2 separate regions of the Homo sapiens genome follow, and region 2 is linked to region 1. The links come from fine-mapping of genetic effects on gene expression. A gene starts in region 1. The other region holds a variant in brackets. All regions are shown on one strand. Distances are from middle to middle. Region 1 holds the start of DDI2 (DDI proteasomal shuttling factor 2). Region 2 has its middle 4.7 kb from the start of PLEKHM2.

The links. PIP is the estimated chance that this variant, and not a neighbour inherited with it, causes the effect. A credible set is the group of variants that fine-mapping cannot tell apart.
Region 2: its variant is the best candidate, but not a certain one, in a credible set for the expression of DDI2 in monocytes after Pam3CSK4 (Quach 2016, PIP 0.68).

The regions. Positions count from the first base shown.
Region 1 is chr1:15,616,228-15,619,134 of GRCh38, forward strand. DDI2 (DDI proteasomal shuttling factor 2) reads left to right here and starts at 1,231. Exons shown (of 10, transcript NM_032341.5): 1 at 1,231-1,581. The coding sequence starts at 1,444. RefSeq lists a silencer at 985-1,554.
Region 2 is chr1:15,678,171-15,681,077 of GRCh38, forward strand. No RefSeq gene overlaps it. Among named protein-coding and RNA genes, the nearest start is that of PLEKHM2, 4.7 kb to the right of the region's middle. RefSeq lists a silencer at 464-1,011 and an enhancer at 1,714-2,214. The variant C/T (reference allele first, on the strand shown) is at 1,650.

The sequences.
Region 1 (2,907 bases):
TAGCTGGGACTATAGGTGTCCGCCACCATGCCCGGCTAATTTTTGTATTTTTAGTAGAGACGGGGTTTCACCATATTGGCCAAGCTGGTCTCGAACTCCTGACCTTGTGATCCGCCCGCCTTGGCCTCCCAAAGTGCTGGGATTACAGGCGTGAGCCACCGCGCCCAGCTCCTCTAATTTCTCTTTGTAAAAGCCTTCAGCTGCTAATTCTCCCTTTCCTGCCACCAACAGCCTACTTACTACCTACTTACCTGCACCCACAGCCATCTTATTTGCTCCTTCTCTCCTGTTAAAATGGAAAAGGGCTCCCTACCATGGAGGGGGAGTGGGAGTAAATGGAAAGATGCTAATCTGGCATCCATTACAAGTTCATCTTTCAGTTTTGGTTTTCTTACTCATCCGCACCTTAGTTCTGGGCCTCTACCACTCATCAGCTGTGTGCCTTAAAAACAGGCCATTAAAGTAGCAAATATTTATTGAGTAGATTCTAAGCTGTGCCCAAAAAGGCACTGCGCTAGGTGGTAGGAGTTGCTAGGGCTAGGAAACAGACACAGTCCAAGTAGAGAGAAAATTATTTACAAGACAGGGGAATGGAGCCTTGGAGGAACTGACCTATGTGGCTGGGAGGGCAGAGAATGTGGGAAGAGCTCGGAAGAAGGGGCTGGGGAGGTAGGCGTGGGCCACAGCCAACTGGCTTCTGTAGACTAGGGAGGGTAATGATTTTGGTTTCAATCCTAAATCACTAAGACAGGAAGTGAATTACTCTGTCGGAGCCTCAATTTCTACCTCGAAAAATATGTTTTATTACTAACTCCTGTACTAGATTGAGAGTTACGGAGAAGGATTTATCCTTTTATTCATTTCTGCATCGCCAGCGCCCGACACATGGTAGGCGCTTAATCAATGCCTGTTCGGTGAATAAATAAGACCGGGGACTCCTCCACAGACTTCTGTCATTAAGTCAACCAGTCAGCAGAGATTTCCTTCTCCGCGTTCCTTTCCTTCCCTCCCCTTTTCTTGCCCTTCCTCCCTCTCCTCTTCCACGCCCCCTTCCCACTCCTCCCCCTCCTATCCTCTCCTGGCTTCCTCCTCCTCTTCCCGGCCCCGCCCCCCGCTGCGTTGCGAAGGCGGGGAAGGCGAGGCGGGCTTTACGGCAGCCGCGTTGCGGCGGGGCGGGGCGCCGGGCGGCCGGCGCGCTTGGCGGCAGCCGTGGGAGGCAGGCCGGCAGGCAGACGGACTCGCAGGCGTGTGGCGGCGGCCGTGCTTGCTAGTGAGGGCGGGAGGGAGTGACTCACTGAGCGTGTGTGAGGGAGGGAGCGAGCGAGCGAACGAGCAGCCGGCGCCGTCCTCCCGCAGCACCAGCCAGGCCACGCCGCCGCCTCTTCCCCTGCGCCCCGCGCCCAGGCCGGGCCGAGCCGAGCCGAGCCGGGTCGGGCCCGGGCCATGCTGCTCACCGTGTACTGTGTGCGGAGGGACCTCTCCGAGGTGACCTTTTCCCTCCAGGTCGACGCCGACTTCGAGCTGCACAACTTCCGCGCGCTGTGCGAGCTCGAGTCTGGCATCCCCGCAGCCGAGAGCCAGGTACGCCGGGCAGCGAGCCGGGCCTGCCCCGGAGCTAAGCCCTCCCCGCCTCGGGGCCTCACTCCCTCCCTTTGCTACTGGTGAAGAATTGGGGGCTGGGGGGAGCAAGGATAGCCATTCTCAGGTCACCCCCGCATCCGGAAAGGAGCTGGGGAGCTGGCATCAGTAGCTGCCCTCACACACTCCGAGCATGGGGTGGGGTACGAGGAGAGGGAGCGGAGAACCTGACCGCAGACGCACCCACTGCAGCGTGAGGGGCGCGTGGACTGTTGAGCAGCGCTAACCCTCCCCACCTTTGGCTCTTTGGCCCTTCCCTGTTTCTAATCCCGAGTGTAGGATATCGTTGTGGACCTCAGAAGCAGCCCTGGGTTTGCTAGGATTCATACATCCTGCAAACCAGAAATACCAGTTTGGATCACTGTGGTAGATAGATGTTCCTCTGCTTTTTTTTTTTTTTTTTTCTGGAGAGGGTTTCTGCTTAAATATACGCAGTTTACCTTTAAATGCACAGATTTGCACTTCCGGTGAAAGAAAAAGTTTAAGACTTGCACTACCTCATTTTGGGGTCTTTGGAAATGCTCTTTACCCACCACATGCGTTTCTGGTTAAATTCTTTTGAAAAACAGTACCTATTGGTTCAACTCAAGCTGTTTGTTTGTTTCGGTTCTACCCTGGTAGTAAGCCAGAAGGCCCTTTTTCTTTCAGGTCACAGTTCAGAGTTTGGGTCAGTTCAAAGCTCAATGCTTTAAAAGGATATTTGCTTGGAAACGGCCTAGTATCAGTGCTGTTTGGTGGTTTCATTTCCCTACTCAGCTTGCTGGAAAGAAGTTCAGCCTCTCATATTTTAACTAAGCAAAGTAATTCTCAAAATGCTTTGGGGCTGCCCCTAGTCTTTATCAAACAGAATCGGTGACACTAACGCTGTAAACTTTACACTAAAACACTTAGATCATGACTTAATAAATTTAGCCTGGAGGAAATAGTCTAAACATTAAGAAAATTATAGAGGTCTCCCAAGTCTCCATCAAGTAAATCTTGATTTTCTACTGCAGTTATGAAATAGTTTACAAAACGATTGCCCAACTGCAGCTTGTTCTGCTGTCTTATGGTAAACACGTGTCAATACTTTGTTCAGAAGTATGATTCCTTTACACAATGTGAACTTTAGAACCTTGGCATAAAGCTGTTCAGAAAGAATTTAAAAAGTTAATCCACAAAAGCTCAGGAACCAGTTCTGTCAGTGAATGCCTCATGTGGAGAACTAGGAAAGGACTGTTTAAATAGAGAAAATAAACTCTTCAATTTTTTTTCTTTTTTTGTTTTTGT
Region 2 (2,907 bases), 62 kb after region 1:
TCTAGTACCTCACCCATTATCTTCCTAGAATGGAAAGGCTCAAATCAGGTGTATTAGGCCATTCTTTCATTGCTATAAAGAAATACCTGAGACTGGGTAATTTATTTTTATTTTGTTGAGATGGAGTCTTGCTCTGTCACCCAGGCTGGAGTGCAGTGGTGTGATCTTGGCTCACTGAAACCTCCACCTCCTGGGTTCAAGCGAGTCTCCTGCCTCAGCCTCCCAAGTAGCTGGGACTACAGGCATGCACCACCACGCCTGTCTAATTTTTGTATTTTTAGTAGATACAGGGTTTTACCATGTTGGCCATGCTGGTCTCGAATGCCTGACCTCAAGTGATCCACCCGCCTTGGCCTCCCAAAGTGCTAGGATTACAGGTGTGAGCCACCGTGCTCAGTGAGACTGTGTAATTTATAATGAAAAGAGGTTTAATTGGCTCGTGATTCTGCAGGCTGCACAAGCATGGGCCAACATTGCTCAGCTTCTGGGGAGGCCTCAGGGAGCTTTTACTCATGGCAGAAGGTGAAGCAGGAGCAGGCTTATCACATGACAAAAGCAAGAGGAAGTGAGAGAGAGTGGTGGGGAGGTGCCACATACTTTTACATGACTACATCTTGCAAGAATTCACTCACTGTTTTGAGGACAGCACCAAGAGGATGGTGCTCAACCATTCATGAGAACTCCACCCCCATGATCCAGTCACCTCCCATCAGGCCCCACCTCCAACACTGAGGATTCCTTTTATTTATTTATTTATTTTCTTTTTTTTGAGACAGGTCTTGCTCTGCACCCAGGCTGGAATGCAGTGGCGCGATCTCAGCTCACTGCAACCTCCGCCTCCTGGGTTCAAGTGGTTCTCCTGCCTCAGCCTCCGGTGTAGCTGGGATTAAAGCACGTGCACCACACCTGGCTAATTTTTGTATTGTTAGTAAAGATGGGGTTTCACCATGTTGGCCAGGCTGGTCTCGAACTCCTGACCTCAAGTGATCTGCTTGCCTTGGCCTCCCAAAGTGCTGGGATTATAGGAATGAGCCACCGTGCCTGGCCTAAGGATTACATTTTGACATGAGATTTGAAACAAATATCCAAACTGTATCATCAGGTGTAAAGAGAAGCAACCTTACATCTGTCCTTAGTTCTCTCTTTTTTATTTTTTGTCACCCAGGCTGGGGTCTTGAACTCCTGACCTCAGGCAATCCACCCACCTCGGCATCCCAAAGTGCTGGGATTACAAGCGTGAGCCACTGCACCCAGTGTCTTTTGTCCTTTAACTTCCATGGCCAGCTAAAAACTTTATCTGCATTTTAATTAAGTTAAAAATTAATCAGAAAAAAGAAATTAATCAGAAAATTAATCAGAAAAAAAGAAACTGTAGCATAGCCCTTTCTATGCTACAGCTCAAGGCAGCTGTTCTAGGTTGATGGACAGCTCTCTTCCATGCAGTGATTCAGGGAACTAGGGTGTCTATATTTTATATGTCTGACATCCCCTTGGCTTCATTGCACTGGTAGAAGAAGAAACAGCATGGAAGAGGAAATTTGCATAGAATCCCAGCCTAGGAATGGATCACATTTCTCTGTTCATGTTCTATTTGAGAGGATTTGATCATATAGCTGTGCGTGTCACAAAGGAGGCTGGGAAATGTAGTG[C/T]AGCACTCTGCCTGGCTACAACCCTATTACTGTGTAAAGAGAGAGAAGATTTTGTTTTTTTGTTGTTTGGCTTTTGTTTTGAGACAGGGTCTTGCTCTGTTGCCTAGGTTGGAGTGCAGTGGTGCAAACATGGCTCACTGCAGCCTCAACCTCCCATGTAGCTGGGATCACAGGAACACATCACCATGCCTGGCTAATTTTTGGATTTTTTGTAGAGATGGGGGGTCTCACTTTGTTGCCCAGGCTGGTCTTGAACTCCTGGGCTCAAGTGATCGTCCCACCTTGGGCTCCCAAAGTGCTGGGATTACAGGCGTGAGCCATCACACGCAGCCAGAGAGAGCAGATTTGGGTGAATAGCTAGAGGCCCTCGGATGCGAACAGACCAGCATGCTTGAGAAACTAAGGTTGGTGGGGCTGGCACACACCAGCGGAGAGTTAGGAGATGAGTCAGGGAGGGAGGCTGGATCAGATCAGCCTTGGAAGCCAGAGAAAAGAGTATGGACTGTATTCTAAATGCTATGACAGTAGGCAGAGGCTGCAGTCAGCTGAGAACACGCCACTGCGCTCCAGCCTGGGTGACAGAGCGAGACTCTGTCTCAGAAAACAACAGGCTGGGCGCGGTGACTCACACCTGTAATCCCAGCACTTTAGGAGGCTGAGGCAGGTGGATCATGAGGTCAAGAGCTCGAGACCAGCCTGGCCAAGATGGTGAAACCCCAACTCTACTAAAAATACAAAAATTAGCCAGGTGCAGTGGCAGGAATCTGTAATCCCAGCTACTTGGGAAACTGAGGCAGGAGACTCACTTGAACCCGGGGGGGGCGGAGGTTGCAGTGAGCCAAGATGGAGCCACTGCACTCCAGCCTGGGCGACAGAGTAAAACTCCATCTCAAAAAACAACAACAACAAAAAATAAGAATAGAATCATTTTTCCTGGGTCACTGATTTGGAAATTAAGGCAAAGTGACTTGCCTGAGGCCCTAGCATGAGTCAGTTGAGGCTTTTAATTCTTGTTGCCTTTTGACTCAGAGTCCCATGCACTTCTCATGAGATCAGAAAAGTCTTGTGCAATAAATGAATGAGCTTCAATTTCCAGCTTAAGTGACTCCCAATAACAAATAAGTATCTTGTGTTTTTCAGAGTCACCCTTTTTTTTTTGGTTTGCTTTTTGGGGTTTTTTAAGAGGTGAAGTCTTGCTCTGTCACCCAGGCTGGAGTGCAGCCACATGAGCTCAAGAGATCCTCCCTCTTCAGCCTCC